Homo sapiens: one gene and its partners. The protein of the gene in region 2 interacts with the protein of the main gene of each other region in a pairwise test. Each region holds a gene or a part of one and is shown on either strand. Other genes may lie near its edges.

Region 1 (3,756 bases), on a different chromosome or scaffold from region 2:
GGTGGCACCGTAGTCTTAGAGCCACCGGTTCTGAGCGGGGAGGACGACGGGGTTGGGGCGGAGGAAGGAGAGGGAGAAGGAGATGGGGATTTGCTGACGCAGACCCAAGCCCAAACGCCGACTCCAGCACCCGCTTGGCCGGCGCCCCCAGCCACACCGCGCTTCCTGGCCCTCGCAAATGGCTCCCTGTTGGTGCCCCTCCTGAGTGCCAAGGAGGCGGGCGTCTACACTTGCCGTGCACACAATGAGCTGGGCGCCAACTCTACGTCAATACGCGTGGCGGTGGCAGCAACCGGGCCCCCAAAACACGCGCCTGGCGCCGGGGGAGAACCCGACGGACAGGCCCCGACCTCTGAGCGCAAGTCCACAGCCAAGGGCCGGGGCAACAGCGTCCTGCCTTCCAAACCCGAGGGCAAAATCAAAGGCCAAGGCCTGGCCAAGGTCAGCATTCTCGGGGAGACCGAGACGGAGCCGGAGGAGGACACAAGTGAGGGAGAGGAGGCCGAAGACCAGATCCTCGCGGACCCGGCGGAGGAGCAGCGCTGTGGCAACGGGGACCCCTCTCGGTACGTTTCTAACCACGCGTTCAACCAGAGCGCAGAGCTCAAGCCGCACGTCTTCGAGCTGGGCGTCATCGCGCTGGATGTGGCGGAGCGCGAGGCGCGGGTGCAGCTGACTCCGCTGGCTGCGCGCTGGGGCCCTGGGCCCGGCGGGGCTGGCGGAGCCCCGCGACCCGGGCGGCGACCCCTGCGCCTACTCTATCTGTGTCCAGCGGGGGGCGGCGCGGCAGTGCAGTGGTCCCGCGTAGAGGAAGGCGTCAACGCCTACTGGTTCCGCGGCCTGCGGCCGGGTACCAACTACTCCGTGTGCCTGGCGCTGGCGGGCGAAGCCTGCCACGTGCAAGTGGTGTTTTCCACCAAGAAGGAGCTCCCATCGCTGCTGGTCATAGTGGCAGTGAGCGTATTCCTCCTGGTGCTGGCCACAGTGCCCCTTCTGGGCGCCGCCTGCTGCCATCTGCTGGCTAAACACCCGGGCAAGCCCTACCGTCTGATCCTGCGGCCTCAGGCCCCTGACCCTATGGAGAAGCGCATCGCCGCAGACTTCGACCCGCGTGCTTCGTACCTCGAGTCCGAGAAAAGCTACCCGGCAGGCGGCGAGGCGGGCGGCGAGGAGCCAGAGGACGTGCAGGGGGAGGGCCTTGATGAAGACGCGGAGCAGGGAGACCCAAGTGGGGACCTGCAGAGAGAGGAGAGCCTGGCGGCCTGCTCACTGGTGGAGTCCCAGTCCAAGGCCAACCAAGAGGAGTTCGAGGCGGGCTCTGAGTACAGCGATCGGCTGCCCCTGGGCGCCGAGGCGGTCAACATCGCCCAGGAGATTAATGGCAACTACAGGCAGACGGCAGGCTGAACCTCCGCCCGTCCGGCCCGCCCATTCCCGACCTCCACCTAGGGTGCCTGGGAGCAGCAGTCTAGGGCTGGCAGGACTTATGTCCCCCGTCCCCAACCTTCACCTACTCCTCCCCCTTACTACTCCCCAACCTTGACTACCAGGGACTTCTATTAGGGAGTGGGCCGATTTCACCAGTCCCTGCTACCCACGGCTGCCATTCTCCCTGCGGGCTGAATCCCCTTCCCCGCCAAGCACAGTGTTTATCTTACCCCATGCAAGACTCCACCCGCAGACGGTGGGCGATATCTATGTCCCTCCATTCCCGTCGCGATTATCTGCGAAATCCACCCCGCAGCCCGCCCCACCGTGGGCTCTGGAGCCAGAGGAAACGAGCGAAGACTTTGGAAACCTCGCGGTAACGCGGTGGTTTCGGGGGCCAGCCAAGGCCAGTGGAGTGCTGTGGGGTCCCACCTCGACCCCTCCTCCTCCCTTTCTTTCTTTCCTTTTTTTTTATTTTTTAATTTTATTTATTTATTTATTTATTTTTTGACGGAGTCTTGGTCTGTCGCCAGGCTGGAGTGCAGTGGCGCGATCTCGGCTCACTGCATCTTCCGCCTCCCGGGTTCAAGCGATTCTCCTGCCTCAGCCTGCCTAGTAGCTGGGACTACAGGCGCGCGCCACCACGACCAGCTAATTTCTTCTATTTTTAGTAGAGACGGGGTTTCACCATGTTGGCCAGGATGGTCTGGATCTCTTGACCTCAGGTGATCCATCTGCCTCGGCCTCTCAAAGTGCTGGGATTACAGGCGTGAGGCACCGCGCCCGGCCCCTCCTCCCTTTCAATCCCTACTCCCAGAAGCCGGGATTCGTGGCAACCCCTAGTTTTTAGTTCCAAAGCCTCCTGCCGGCAGGGAACCAAATCCTTCTGTCCTCCCACCCCCACCCCACTTCTGGCCAGTTGGAGTCCAGCCCGGTGCCTGGGGCGCCTTTCAGCTCCGCGCTCAGATTTTCCTGTTTTCGTTGTTTTCAAAGACAGCGACATTTCGGGTCTGGTGCTAACACCCCCTTCCCAGCCTCTGGGAAAATCGAGTGTGTGTGTCGGGGGGTAGGGAGGGAATGCGTTTTCTGTCGTCTCTCTCCTAACTTAAAGCGCCGCAGGACCGCGCGCCCCTTGGCGGCTGAGCCTGTGGACTTGGTCGCGGGCCAATTTCGTTGTCCGTGTGTTGGGCTTTCCGGAGGTCTGTGCGCCCAACAGCGCCGCTCCCGCGGCTCCACCCGACCCAGACCCTAGCTGGAAAGCGCCGGAGGCGGAGGAAGCTGACTGTGGCCTCCCGGGCCGCGGCTCTCTGGAGGGCTCGCGCCCTAGTTCGCACAAAGCCTGCTCGTGACTGTGCGACTGTGCGACGGGATCCGGATGGAGCCGAGCCCCTCCGTCCTCGCGTCTCGGTCCTCGCGTCGCCCCGCCCCACCCGCCCCTGCTTCGGCGGGAATCGTGTTTGCCCGGCGTGTAGTCCCTGACAAGCGTGCCCTGTAGGAGAAAAGTCTGTGTCCTGTGAAGTGTGACCGTGTAGTGTAGGGGGGCGGGCGGGGGGGCGGATGGGCGGGGAGGGAGGGAAGGGGAGGGGCGCGGCGCGGCGACTCGGGGCGGGGTTCTTTTTTCCATTTTGAAAGAAAGCGTCGGGGTTGGGGTGGGGGGAGTTTCAGTCCTCGGGATCAGCCCTCTCCGCGAAGCGCAGCACAAGCGCGGGCCTGGGACGGAGTAGCCCCCCGGAGCCCGTGCCCTTTTCTAAACGCGTCTGTATGCAGTCAATAAAACAATCGATTTGAACTGGGCTCGGTGACTTTTTGTCAGGGGACAGAGGGAGGAGGCCTGGGCGATGAAGGAGGAAACCGCGGAAGGAAGGAGCCCCCCCAGAGCCTCCCGTTGGAATCTTTTGAGTGATTTCCTGTTTGCGTGACCATCCTGTGATTTTTTTGCCAGGTGTTTGCACCCAGCCCTGCTCTTAGTGTCTCCAACTCCAGGGTGGGGTGACAAAAAACGAGGGCAGGCTGCAAGTGAGTAGGGGGAGGTTGCAGGAAAGGAAGGCGGGTGTCTGCAGACCCTGAACACAGGGAGTCTGAGTGTGCGTGCAAGTATATTTGCACTCAAGGGTGTGCGGCACCCTCTTTCACTTGAGACTGTCTGTGTAGTGGGGTGTGGCTGTATATGGTGTCACACTGCCCAGTTTCTGTGTCTCCACATCAGCCTTTGAGTTCCCTGAGAAGCCGGTGGGAAGAGGATGGGATTCATAGGGACAAGACCGCTGTGGCTTGCACAAGAGAAGTCACAAATAACACAAAGTACAGAGCGGGCAAATGATGTAAAGC
Region 2 (7,039 bases):
GGACTGTGGACTGTGCTCTTAAAGAATTCAGGCTTGTATTTCAAACTATCCTCTGCCACACAATGAACTTCATTCTTTCAAATACACCCACCCACCCACTCACCCCACACCCCTCACCCCCCCATACACACACAGCTTGAGGGACAACACAAAAGCCTGAAGACATAGACAGTAGAAACAACAGGGTCATTAAAAAAGGGAGGGCTCATGATGGTACAGGAACCTGCAGCGGGGGAACCCTCAAAATGGTCCTCTGAGCTTTTGCCCATTCAGTTCCACCTGCAAGCTGGACTTCCTCTCCCTCCTTTCCAGATTCCTGTCTACCCTTGAGGGTAGGGATCAGATACTACCTCCTCCAAGTAGATCTCTCCAACTATTTCACTACATTGAGGATCTCTCTCTTCTCTTAAATCCCATTATGTGGATTATCTGAATCTCTCATTTTAGTAGCAAGAAAGTATACATCAGACTCCCCAAAGACTAGACTTGGCCTCTCACTGAGTCCTCATACTGTTTTATATAGCTGCTATTCTAAAACGGCCTGACTAGGTGAATTAAAACTTTAAAGATTTTAAACTTTCAAATTAGACCATTTTAAGAATACCAGGGAATCAACCACTCTTTAAGTTCTAATTAGTGGAGTTATTGAAAGAGTTGGCAGAATAAGACTAAGAAGAGAGACTGGCCGTGTCTTAAATCACTGTGAGGATGACTTGCCAAACAAGACTACTTTGTATTTTTGGCTTGTGGTATCTGTCTCCAAACAGCACACACCATATCACACACTATTTATTATGGTCCTGAGCTGAACCATTCTTTTAGCAAACAAGTGAAAAGGAGAGGTACCAGGTATTTCCAGCTCTGTTCCACAGAAATGGAAATGTAAGTTAAAGCAGTGGTTTATTTAAGAGCTTGAGACACAGCAGTAGAAAAGCTGAACGTTCTAATGACCATCTTATCTTCTGAGGCCTGGGCTCTTAAACTAGGATGTGTGGCTCTTGTGGTTTCTCCACCTACTGCACCCACTGCAACCTCAGGACAATCAATTACAAGCAAACCAGAGTTTGGGGTGCAAGGGCAGTGCAGGCTCAAGGCACCCCATAGCCTCCTCATCTTTCAGGGAGGGGCCTGGCCAGAAAAGAGGGGCTTTATAAAGTGAGGGCAAGAATATAGTGTCCCTCAGCTTGCCAAGGTCTAAGGGTCCCAAATAGTCCCCAGAGTCTCAGGGCATACCTGGTTCATCTTCCTGGAGCATCAATAATACAAGACCTGGAGGATTATGTTTTATATTAAATAAGTGCAGATATGTTACAGAGTAAACTGTAAGAACCAAATAAATGTTTGCTCCTGCCACCTTTGGCCTCTGCTTCAGAATCCTAGAAATAAGGATTAACCCTCCTCTCCCATTGGGATAATTCAGTGGAAGTTTTTAGTCCATTCTCATACTGCTAATAAAGACATACCTGAGACTGGGTAATTTATAAAGAAAAGAGGTTTAATTGATTCACAGTTCAATATGGCTAAGAAGGCCTCAGGAAACTTACAGTCATGGTGGAAAGGGAAGCAAACACATCCTTCTTCACATGGCGGCAGCAAGAAGTGTGAGCAAAAGGGGGAAAGCCCCTTATAAAACCATCAGCTCTCATGAGAACTCACTCACTATCAGGAGAACAGCATGGGGATAACTGCCCCCATGATTCAATTACCTCCCACCAGGTCCCTCCCACAACACATGGGGATTATGAGCACTACAGTTCAAGATGAGACGGGTGGGGACACAAAACCTAACCATATCATTACACTCTTGGCCCCTCCCAAATCTCATATCCTCACATTTCAAAACACAATCATGCCTTCTCAACAGTTCCCCAAAGTCTTAACTCATTCCAGCATTAACTCAAAAGTCCAAGTCCAAAGTCTCACCTGAGACAAGGCAACTCCTGCCTATCAGTCTGTAAAATAAAAAACAAGTTAGTTACTTCCTAGATACAATGGGGGTACAGGCATTGGGTAAATACAACTGTTCCAAATGGGAGAAATTGGCCAAAACAAAGGGGCTACAGGCCCCATGCAAGTCTGAAATCCAATAAAGCAGTAATTAAATCTTAAAGCTCTGAAATAATCTCCTTTGGCTCTATATCTCACATTCAGGTCATGCTTATGCAAGAGGTGGGCTCCCATAGCCTTGGGCAGCTTCACCCCTGTGGCTTTGTAGGGTACAGCCCCCTCCTGGCGCCTTCACAGCTGGCATTGAGTGTCTGTGGCTTTTCCAGGTGCACGGGGCAAGCTATCAGTGGATCCACCATTCTGGCGACTGGAGGACAGTGGCCCTCTTCTCAGAACTCCACTAGGCAGTGCCCCACTGAAGACTGTGTGTGAGGGCTCTGACTCCACATTCCCTTTCTGCGTTGCCCTAACAGAGGTTCTCCATGAGGGCTCTGTCCCTGCAGCACACTTCTGGCTGGACATCCAGGCATTTCTATATATCCTCTGTAATCTAGGTGGAGGTTCCCAAACCTCAATTCTTGACCTCTGTTTACCCATAGGCTCAACACCAAATGGAAGCTGCCAAGGCTTGGGGCTTAAACCCTTTGAAACTACAGCCTGAGCTATACCTTGGCCCCTTTGTATGCCTTGGCCCCTTTTAGCCATGGCTGCAATGACTAGGATGCAGGGCACCAAGTCTCTAGACTGCACGCAGCAGGGGGGGCCTGAACCCAGCCCACAAAACCATTTTTTCTTCCTAGGCCTCCAGGCCATGGGTGGGAGGAGCTGCTACAAAGGTCTCCGACATGCCCTGGAGACATTTTCCCCTTTGTCTTGGCAATCAACATTTAGCTCCTTGTTACTTATGCAAATTTCTGCAGCTGGCTTGAATTTCTCCCAGAAAATGAGTTTTTCTTTTCTACCACATTGTCAGGTTGCAAATTTTCCAAAACTTTTATGCTCTGTCACCTCTTGAACACTTTGCTGCTTAGGAATTTCTTCTACCAGACACCCTAAATCATCTCTCTGATGATCCACAGATCTCTAGGGCAGGGTAAAATGTCACCAGTCTCTTTACTAAACCATAGCAAGAGTCACCTTTGCTCCAGTTACCAACAAATTCCTCATCTCTATCTGAGACCACCTCAGCCTGGACTTCATTGTCCATATCACTATCAGTATTTGGTCAAAGCCATTCAGCAAGTCTCTAGGAAGTTCCAAACTTTCCCACATTTTCCTGTCTTCTTCTGAGCCCTCTACATCTCCAGGAAATTCCAAACTTGCCCACATTTTCCTGTCTTCTTCTGAGCCTTCCAAACTGTTCCAACCTCTGCCCATTACCCAGTTCCAAAGTCGCTTCCACATTTTCTGGTATCTTTAATAGTAACTCCCCACTACCTCAGTACCAATTTATGGTGTTAGTCCATTCTCATGCTGCCAATAAAGACATACCTGAGACTGGGTAATTTACAAAGGAAAGAGGTTTAATTGACTCACAGCTCCGCAGGGCTAGGGAGGCCTCAGGAAACTTACAATCATGGCAGAAGGGGAAGCAAACACATCCTTCTTTACATAGCGGCAGCAAGGAGAAGTCAGAGTGAAGAGAGGGAAAGCCTCTTATGAAACCATCAGTCTCATGAAAACTCATGAAGGCAACCAACCCCCTGATTCAATTACCTCCCAGTGGGTCCCTCCCACGACACATGGGGATTATGGGAATTCAGTTCAAGATGAGATTTAGGCGGGGACACAGCCAAATCATATCACACTGGTAGGAATATGGTGTAGGTTTTATATTAGATAGTTGATCTTAAATTTGTTTCTTTCTCTCTCGTTTCTTTTTTTCCCCACAGAAGATAGAATTATATTTCCTGAAATAATCTATACAAAGGTTTGTAGAAAGACAGAAAACGTTTACAACCACATTCTCTCACTCAGCTCCTAATTTTTCTCTCTTGTTAAACCAGGCAACTTCAAAACTAATCCTTAAGAAGCCCCTCCCTCAGCCTGCTCTGCCTTCCAGTGATTGTTATTTTTGCTATTACCAAGAACATGCAAGAGGAAAACAAATGCACCTTGCAGGAGAATTATTTGAAGCTTACAAACTATTTTCACTTGAAGGGTTATGAAATTTTACTAACGTTCTCTAGTGAGGCAAAAATTACACAGGTCTTGATAACAGAAACACGAGCAACAATTAAACTCAGATTTTAACATATATAATTTTAGCATCTCATAAAGCTAGTCTCAACTTCTGCTTTTTTACTTCATATCTCAACAATACTATAAGGGACTGCAGAATCATGATTGCAAGGAAAATGCACAGTTTCCACCTCTCCAATAGGACTAAGCACTTCTCATACTCCAGTCAAGCAAAAAAATCACTTTGTACCCTGACATGAAGCAAAAATAACATGATCATCCTGCCTGAAAGTTGGTCTCCAAAATAAAACTTCAAACACATCTCATTCCCTTAAAGAAATAATTTTTTCCCTTGATTGTTTGCTATGCTGATGTCTGAAAACAAGTCACGACTTTTAGGAATAGATAATTGTGTAAGAAAGTTGTTTTTAGTCATGAACAACAGACTAATGTAAATGGAGAACTTTGGTAATTTGGTGGAATATTTTCTTTCAAGTATTTATTGTGATTTTATTTGATGAGCCAGTCTTATAAAGCCTGACTCCCTTGCACTCTGGGGAAGTAAACATTTTCTTTCCTTTTCTAACTGCTTCTGCCTCTAAGTCTTCCTTTGTCAAAAGTAAATGTAACAATAAACACAGATTGCTACTCTACTTAATTTTAACCCAAGCATATGTTACCTACTCTGAGCTAGCACAACTTGTGGGGCCTGCTCAAATGTCAACTGTATTTTGGTTTTCTATTGCGCCTCAAAATACACTCAAGGGATTCATCTTCCCTGCCCTCAAACAAATACTTGAGTAGATCCCATGATGTTTCTGCTCATGCAACAACTTCAAAGTCCCAAAAGAGGCCAGTCACAGTGGCTCACAATTGTAATCCTAGCACTTTGGGATGTGGAGGCAGGAGGATCACTTGAGCCCAGGAATGCAAGACCAGCCTGGGCAACATAGCAAAACCACGTCTCTACAAAAAAAGTTTTTTTAATTAGCTGGGCATGGTGTTCTGTGCCTGTAGTCCCAGCTACTTGAGAGACTGAGATGGGAGGATCACTTAAGCCCAAGAGGTTGAGGCTGCAGTGAGCTGTGATCATGCCACTGCACTCCAGCCTGGGCAACAGACAGAGTGAGACTTTGTCTCAAATGAATAAATAAATAAATAAGAAATATAAAAACCTAAAAGAATTAAAATGTCTAATCTTTGGAAACAAAAGAAACTCTGACCCATTATAACACAAATCTGCCCTATTTCTGCAATGTCCTGCTGCATGCTGGTCTCCTGCTGGGGTTGGGGGAAGGTAAACTTCTTTTCTATTTCTCCACCATCCACTCAACTGCTAGCTAGTTTCACATCACTCCAAGACCAAAGCAGGAGGAAAGGACTGAATTAACTATCTTCATACCTCACATGGGTGTGTTAGTAATACTCACCTTCCTTCAGCTGGCTGCTCATTCCTACTTCTGCTGCCAGGGGCCCTCGCCCTTAGGCCAGCCCTTCCTCCCATGTGGCCCCACCTGGCTCCCAGATCATCTTCAGACATCCTTTGCCCAACAAACTCTGGGAAGGTGAGTGATCCAGCCACCTAGGCCCCTGTGTGAGCCCCAAATGCAAGAAGCACATGGACAGCTCAACTCACCCTCAAATGGCCCCACTGAGAGGTGACAACATGCTAGCAGCCCTCGCTCACTCTCAGCACCTCCTCAGCAGTGTCTGCTCCGGCCATGCTTGAGGAGTCCTTCAGCACACCGCTGCACTGTGGGAGCCCCTCTCTGGGCTGGCCGAGGCTGGAGCTGGCTCCCTCTGCTTGCGGGGAGGTGTGGAGGGAGAGAGAGGGGCAGGAACCCGGGCTGGCCAGCGTGAGTTCTAGGTGGGCGCAGACTCAGTGGGCCCCACCAGCCCTGGGCAGTGAGGGGCTTAGCACCCAGGCCAGCAGCTGCAGAGGGGGCGCCAGGTCCCCCAGCACTGCCAGCCTGCCTGCGCCGCACTCAAATTCTCACCGGGCCTCAGCCGCCTCCCTGTGGGGCAGAGCTCAGGACCTGCAGCCCGCCATGCCAGAGCCCAGCCCCCCACCCCGTGGTGGGCTCCCGCACTGCCCGAGCCTCCCCAACGGGCGCCGCCCCCTGCTCCATGGCGCCTGGTCCCATCAACCGCCCAAGGGCTGAGGAGTGCAGGCTTGTGGCATGGGACTGGTGGGCAGCTCCGCCCATGGCCCTGGCGTGGGATCCACTAGGCAAAGCCAGCTGGGCTCCTGAATCAGGTGGGGACTTGGAGAACTTTTATGTCTAGTTGGAGGATTGTATATGCACCAATCAGCACTCTGTGTCTAGCTCGGGGTTCGTGGATGCACCAATCAGCACTCTGTATCTAGCTAATCTGGTGGGGACTTGGAGAACTTTTATGTCTAGCTAAAGGATTGTAAACACACCAGTCAGCACTCTGTGTCTAGCTCAAGGTTTGTAATCACACCAATCAACACTCTGTGTCTAGCTCAAGGTTTGTAAACGCAACAATCAGTGCTCTGTGTCTAGCTAATCTAGTGGGGACTTAGAGAACTTTTATGTCTAGCTGGAGGATTGTAAATACACCAATCAGCACTCTTTGTCTAGCTCGGGGTTCTTGGATGCACCAATCAGCCCTCTGTGTCTAGCTCAAGGTTTGTAAATGCACCAATCAGCACCCTGTGTCTAGCTCAAAGTTTGTAAATGCACCAATCAGTGCTCTGTGTCTAGTTAATCTAGTGGGGACTTGGAGAACTTTTTTGTCTAGCTGGAGGATTGTAAATACACCAATCAGCACTCTGTGTCTAGCTCAGGGATTGTAAATGCACTAATCAGCACCCTGTCAAAACGGACCAATCAGCTCTCTGTGAAACAGACCAATCAGTTCTCTGTAAAGTAGACCAATCAGCAGG
Region 3 (7,149 bases), on a different chromosome or scaffold from region 2:
AAACAGGAAACCCACGGACTTTGAGCCAGGATTTTAGAAATTTGCATTTCTTTTTTTACAGGATTTTCCCTCCTGGTGAGTCAAAATGAACAAGAAATACCCCAGGACCTCCCTTCCCTCCTTGGCCATTAATGAGATGAAGGCAATTAACTCACATAGTATAAATGAATCATTTGAGGTGATGACTGCATTTTAGGCAAATGATGACTTTCTTGGTTCCATTGGTTTGCAAGTAAAAGTTACACACATTGAAAAGACACTGAAACAGATTTCCTAAATGCTTCATTTTCTGGATGCACCAATGTTGACCTACTATACATGTTAAATGGTTTTAAAATATCACCTTAAAATAAAGGAAACTTCCAGCTACTAACTCAGCTCTGAATGGGCTATGAAAGGCTCCAAAGGTATGTGAAAAATTACTGTTATTTTGCTTTAAAAAATGTGATGTCTAAGAGTGTCTGCAATGTTCTAATGCTTCAAAACATGTACGTAAGCCTTGTTTATCTGGAAATCATTTCTTTCTGCTTATATCATTTATAAATAGAAAATGTTCTGTAATAACTTAAAATAGTTCCACATACATAATGCTTTTAGTGTCATAATACTTACTACTGGTCTATATTTACCAACATTTATCACATTTTACAAAATGAAGTAGAAGAAAAAAAAGACAACGACTTTATGGCCCTGGAATTCCAGTAATGGTGACCAACATGTTTTAAATTCCAGTAAAGGTTATGGTTACATTTCAACAAGTGTCTCTTTCCTTTTTTTTACCTCTCCTGCTAACCCAGAGGTAAATTTCCCAAAAAAAAAAAAAAAAAAAAAAAAAAAAAAGTCTTAAGCAAGGCATTTGCAAAATCAGAAAACAGGAACAGGAGTTTAGTGATTGTTTTTAAAAGGTGCTGTTCCCAGGGTCAAAACTTTGTGGTGTAATTTCAACATGCTATGTTACCTATTATGTGTAATGCCTTGAAACGCTACATGCCATAACATCAGAAATCTCCAACCTAAAAATTATGTTGCATGAGATAAGCATTGAAGGCACACACGTTCATACAAATTAAATCTGTAATTATGCCTCAATAAGTTAAAATGTAAAGACATATCAAATTGTAAGACCAAAATGGCTTTTGACCTTACAACAAACTCATATAAAAATAGATTTTTCCATAATAATAAAGGGGAGAGAGAGATTTTGCAGGATATTGAGTCAGTAGGGAGGGGTCTCATTTAATATCATGTCGCCTTTTATATGCAGTTAGAAAATCAACGTTCCCAATTACATATTACTTTGCTTTAAAAGATTACTAGGAGGATTAATAAACACTCAGAAATATGCCTTTCTTTGCTTCTGGCCAAGAACATTCCTGCGTGCTTGTCGGAAAATGTTCTTTGGTTGCTACTGACATTAAGGAGTAAGTGCAGGATAACTAGAGGACCCTAAAATAAGATCCAAGAAGCCCTAACACACCGCCAATCGAGGCTTATCAAAGCTCCCCCAGCGCGAGGAAAACTTGCATAGAAGCCAAACAAGAACGAGGAGTCAAAATCCACCGACGACGAGTCGCACGCCCCACCGAGCTGGAGTCAGCAGCACCATTCAACAAGTCCCTCCTACCAGCTCTCTAAGGGATCCCGCAAAACCTTCCTTTACCACTTCCCCACCCCCAGCCTCCCGCCCCCAGTAGCTGCTCTTGGCAGCATGGCCGGCAGAGGGCACCCTCTACCTTCCCTAGCTTCGTTCTCTGGGTCCCCTCCTCCTCCTCGCCTCCCCTCCACCCCGGTCCCTCATCCCCGCTCTACCCCCAACACACAAACACTGCATCCTCCAGTTCACCCTCGCAGCCCCGAGGCTTCTTCCTTAGGGATGCCCCTAGTCTGTAATCTCCCCTTCTTCTTGCCCGTCAGGCACAGAGCCCCCAATCCTCAGCTATTTCTTTCCAGGAGTAACTCACTCACCCATTCCTCTTCCCGGCTCTGCATCCCCAGAGACTAACCCGAGTCAAGAATCCCCCACGTACATCCCAACCACTCCCCGAAAGTCAAAACTCTTAACTTCCCTGGAGGGCGCTTCAGAAGAGGGGCGCAGGATGGGTAGAGATGTGGGTTCGGCCTGCCCGAGAGTGTCGCAGACCCTTTCAGTTCCCAGCGGTAGGAATTCCGCCTCCCAAGTTTTCCAAGCTACATTGGCTTCGGACTTGTAAGTCCACTTCAGTCTCAATTCCTGGGGAGCAGGTAGCCGTGTGCAGCTCCGGGGAAGGGATGCGGGCTGAAGGCGCAAGCTTCCCTCCCACTCCCCCCGCAAGTCGGCGCGGGGACCACCCACCCCCTGGAAGGATTCCTAGCCTAGCCCCAGCACCCTCCCCTCAGTCAGGACCCTCGACAGCTCTGGCCCCCTAAGTCTCTCTCGACTACTCCTGGGCTGGGGGAGGGCTGCGAGGGATCCCCGGGTCGCCGTCTTTGCTCCCATCACGCAGCTCTGGGTCTCCTCCAGGCCTTCCCTCCTCTACTTCGTGACTTCCCCGGGTCCCTTTTTCCCTGGTGGTGCCGGCTGACCTTCTGGGTTGTGGGATGGGGGAGAAAACTCCCCAAGAGTAACTCCAAATCGTCCCTTCTACCGGAGGGGAGGAAAGAAGGAGACTGGCCTCGTCCCACAACTTTGGGGTGGGGGATCCCCCAGTCAACTCTCTCCCGCGGACGGGCAGCTCCTGCACCAAGCCCCATTCCCAGCGCTTGCCTACCTCGGGGTCCACACAAACCTCACGGGTCCCCGGCGGCGGAGTCACATCGTGGTTCCGATTCTGGCTCCAGCGCCCAGCCCCGGTCCCCGTCGCGGTGCTGCTCCCCGCCGGCCCCACAGCAGCGGTGGGTGTCTCATTAAAGCCCCCCGAGCAGGAGGTGGAGGGGCGCACCGGGCTGGCTCCTCTGTCCGGCCCGGGAGCCCGAGGCGCTACGGGGTGCGCGGGACAGCGAGCGGGCGGGTGCGCCCGGGCGCGGCGGCGGCAGCGTCGGGGACCCGGAGCTCCAGGCTGCGCCTTGCGCCCGGGTCAGACATTATTTAGCTCTTCGGTTGAGCTTCGATTGGTCAAACGGCGCCGCCCCCCCCCCCCCGCCCCCCGCCCCCCGCTCCCCGCTCGCCCGCGCTACCGATACCCGTTCGAGGCGGCCGCTTAAAGGGAACGCCGCGTCTTTTCCTCGCGCGGGGAACCGAGGGGCGCCCGGAACTCCCCGCTCCCCCGGGGCCTGTCCTCACCTCCTCCCCTAGGGCCCCGCGACATCGCCCTGCGAGTCCTGCGCCCTCCTGGGGCGCCTTGGACAGGACGCCCGCGGCTTCGAGGGGTGTTCCAGCCCCAGCCTCAGCCCCGGGGAACCCCGCGTCCCGCGCCCTCTGCAGAAACCCCGGCTGTGGGCGCTGGGGCGGGAGGGAGCGAGTGAGAATCGCACGCCCCGAGGTCTCGCTCCCCTAGCTTTCAACTCTCCCCTTCCTCCCCATCCCAGCACCCAAGTTCTCTGGGAGAGGGCGTGCGTTTCCCGGGCCACAGACACACCTTCCCGCACCTTCCTGCACTACGGAGCTTGCGAACGCGAGCACACAATGAAATCGCACAGAGCATGGGGGCTATTGGTTTACTCTGCTGCCTTAAACACGCCGGCTTAAACAGAGTTCGCGCACTGACCTCTCTAGAGTTTGCCTAATAGGAATTCAATCAAGATAATAACAGCATTTTTTATTGATGAACGCCCCCAGATAACGTTACACCAAGTTACTTGTTCCAGCCAGGAAGCCCAGGCAATGACAGACCTCGCTAAAGCCACACGCTTTCTAGCCGACCAAACAGAAAAACGGAAAGAGAAAGAAAGAAAACAAACCCACCTTTTCAGTCACTACTTGTCAAAGTAACCATCAAGGCAGCTGCTCCGGGAAAGACTTCGGCCCCAAAACTCCCACACTCTATTATTTTTTCACGTTCCCTTCGCTTAATTAAAGGGGGGAGGGGGCGCGAGTCTTTGGTGCCCGGTATGTACTCCTTCTGTTCTGCAGCAAAGAAGTTAAATTATTGATAGTGGAAATTGCATGGCGGAGGTAATACTCGCACCCCATCAGCGAGAAGCTCCATTTGATCTCGGCAGAGGCAGGGAGATTTCATGCTAGTTCGCCGGGGGGAGCGGCAGCGAGAGCAGCCCTCTCCGCGGTGAATGGGAAAGTGGGTGGGAGTCCACGAGAGGGCTCCACGGTGCCTTGACGTGCGCTGTCATATGATACCTCCGCTGCCTCGAAATAGACACTCTAGTGCACGAATTACCAGAATCAAAATTCAGCGCATTTAAAATGATACATCTTTTATTAGAAGAGTTCCGTTCCAGGGCATTGCATGCTTTTGCAGATGTTTTCACTTCCAGCCCCAGCAAACACACGTATAAGCTAACCCTTTTAATAACGAACCAGGGCAGCCAAGATAAATAAAAAGTCTTCTGCTTTAACCAGAGTGGGGGTAGGTGATTCGAGGGTGGGGGCAGAACTGGCTCAGTTAATCCTCCCCCGCCCTCCACCCCCACCACTGCCCGCAGCAAAAGAGCAAATAGCCTTTCGGGTTCTCATTTGCCTGTAGCCAAGACCCTTGAAGAGAACTTATATGGCTAGGGTCCAGAGGACATTTTCAATTATCCATTTGATGAACTCTGTCAACCGTCTACCTGTGTTTCTGCTTTAAAGCTGAATTTTCTTCTCATTAGTTCAACCAATTTGTGCAGACCTTAAAATTTAGAATAAAGAATAAGACAGCAGTACCGTACTTAACTTGGAGTCCCTGGACCTCCTCGGAGCATAAAAATCACCTGGGTGAGTGTTAAAATGAAGGTCCCTCCTCCTGAAATTGTGATTTAGTAGGGGTGGGGCAGGGCCCAGGAGTTATAATTTTAATAAATACCACAAGCAATTCGAATGCAGACAATCTGAAGTCACACTTTGAGAAACACTCTCTTGGGGGTACAACACTGGGTATCAGAGGAATCTCCCACCAAGCCCACACCCAAATTCTGCAGGCAGCTTTCTGTGTGTGTGCGTTTTTCTGTAATCTCAAAGGGGTTTGACCTAATAATTGCGAAGACTATTGCTGTAAGAATTTCCCTAAAGACTCCAACATTAATTTTGCTAAAGGGAAAGATTTATAAACAGTTTCCTTTCCTGGACCCTCTTGTGGTTACCAAGAATGTGCTGTTGAACTGAATATATAATATTATTACATACTCAGTTCAATTTACCTAAGGGTTTACAGTTAGCAAAATGAATTCACTAACATTAGCTATTTTAGAACTTCTAAAGACTAGTGACAGAAATTATTTACCCGTTTTATAAAAGAAGAATCCGATCCTCTGCCAGGAAATAATTTACCCACGTTCACACAGTGAAGTACCAGGGACAAGACTTCAGTGAACTCAAGAATTCCTGCTAGAAATAACCCTGCTTCCATCTCCCCCACCCCCTAAGTGAAGCTATCTGTTCCTTGGAAGTGTTATCAGAATGTGTGATCATTCAGAGCGCCTTTGCAAATTGTTGGACTAAATAGTCAAATTATTCAAATATATGCATATTCTTCGAGTGTCACACATTTAGCTTTGCACCTCTGTCAACTTGACAGAGCACATGACCAATACAAACTACCCTACAGCACAGATGGCAGAGTTTATTGTGGAATATTTAATGTATGTGAAATACGCAGGCTAACCAGAAAGCAATAAAGGACAGAGGGCATGAAGCTGGATACCGCTACCCCACAGACCCTCTGCGTTGGTTCCCAGGTTGTAAGATGAATGCAGGCACAATTTCTTTTAGTAGCACAATACAATTTAAAAGGCTAGTGTTATACATTTAAAAAAAATACTTGTACTACATTATAAAGGACTGGAGGAACCCTACTCCAAACTTTAACTTTGTTAACTTCAAACTGATGCTTCACATTTGCTTGAAAATGAGTTCTACCCTCAGGTTTTTAAGCTCAATTGTAATTTATTTCCTTCCTGAAAAAATACCTGGCAAGTTAATGCCAGGAATCTAAGCTAGCATTCTGAAGGCTGCTCACTTAGAAGTTATGGCAAATCTTTTTTCTGCTAAATTCACATTGGCACGTCAGCATTTCTGCTGAAGGAAAAAGTGTTCTCATTTCCCAGACTCTGATTGGGTGGGTCTATGGCCAATCTTCTTATTCCTACTCTCCCTTGACATTATATAAATAAATGTGTGTATCTTCGCTTTCCAGTGTGTGGTGCAGTTTTACTGAGGAAAAGACAGAGGAGTCAGAAATGTCAGGGATATTTAGAAAGAAAAGAAGATCAGATGCCAATTCAGATAACCATGATGAATCACACCTCTTAACACTTGTAAGCATTTCCAAACTTTCTGATTTGTGATTATAGCATTGCCAATACTGTATGCGACCAGCTTAAAACATGTACTTATTTGCCTTAAAAGTACATCTTACATTCAAAAACAATGAAGCCAAGATAAACAAAATTGTACCAGTGCCTTGCATGGAATTCTAAATATTATTTTTTATTTGCTTAATTCAGGTAGCATATAGAGATAATTTTGGAGGTCTAAAATCAAACATTTTACAAAATTATTTCCCTATTGTGGGCAAGGATGATGCTGAGAATATAGAGCATGCATTTCTCTTCTTCTTAAAAATTGGCCTCTGGCATAATTGATATGTTAGGAGCAAAGTTTCCAAGTTTATAATCTGAACATTTTCTCTATTACTAAAATGAGGGAAAGTTTCACAGCTTGAAAAAATAATGCTACCTATTTCACTTTTGTGGGGCTTAAAAATTAATTGTGAATTCGTCTGAATCTTTATTTCTTTTTGGTTATGTTCTAATATGATCCTAACCCAATGTTCCAGGGGGAACAAAGGTCAGGAAGAAATTTGAATTCCCATCTATTCTTGTCGGGAAATATAAACTAATCCTCATTACTCAAGTGAGAACAGAGGTAGTAGGCTTGACATTGACATGTTTTTTCTATTAATAATTTTAATTGGCTGAGGTCAATTCTATCACTATAAGCATTTTATATTTATGTTTATTTAAGCTTCCTAGTTACTCCTACCTTCAGTATTCCTTGCAAGAAAAAAAAAATAAGTTGTC

The links. Proteins that work in one complex are often made in the same cells at the same time.
Region 1: the proteins of MRAP2 (region 2) and ISLR2 interact in binary tests that used the Homo sapiens proteins (3 or more experiments, as listed by UniProt).
Region 3: the proteins of MRAP2 (region 2) and BDNF interact in binary tests that used the Homo sapiens proteins (3 or more experiments, as listed by UniProt).

What each region holds. Positions count from the first base shown.
Region 1 is NC_000015.10:74,133,586-74,137,341, forward strand, and holds the end of ISLR2 (immunoglobulin superfamily containing leucine-rich repeat protein 2 precursor), read left to right. Parts: coding exon 1-1,407; 3' UTR 1,408-3,217; downstream 3,218-3,756. UniProt on the Homo sapiens protein: Required for axon extension during neural development.
Region 2 is NC_000006.12:84,036,735-84,043,773, reverse strand, and holds part of MRAP2 (melanocortin-2 receptor accessory protein 2), read right to left. Parts: intron 1-7,039. UniProt on the Homo sapiens protein: Modulator of melanocortin receptor 4 (MC4R), a receptor involved in energy homeostasis. Plays a central role in the control of energy homeostasis and body weight regulation by increasing ligand-sensitivity of MC4R and MC4R-mediated generation of cAMP.
Region 3 is NC_000011.10:27,697,417-27,704,565, forward strand, and holds the start of BDNF (neurotrophic factor BDNF precursor form isoform a preproprotein), read right to left. Parts: upstream 3,040-7,149; 5' UTR 2,748-3,039; intron 2,252-2,747; exon of another isoform or gene 1,990-2,251; coding exon of another isoform or gene 1,966-1,989; intron 756-1,965; exon of another isoform or gene 62-755; intron 1-61. UniProt on the Homo sapiens protein: Important signaling molecule that activates signaling cascades downstream of NTRK2. During development, promotes the survival and differentiation of selected neuronal populations of the peripheral and central nervous systems.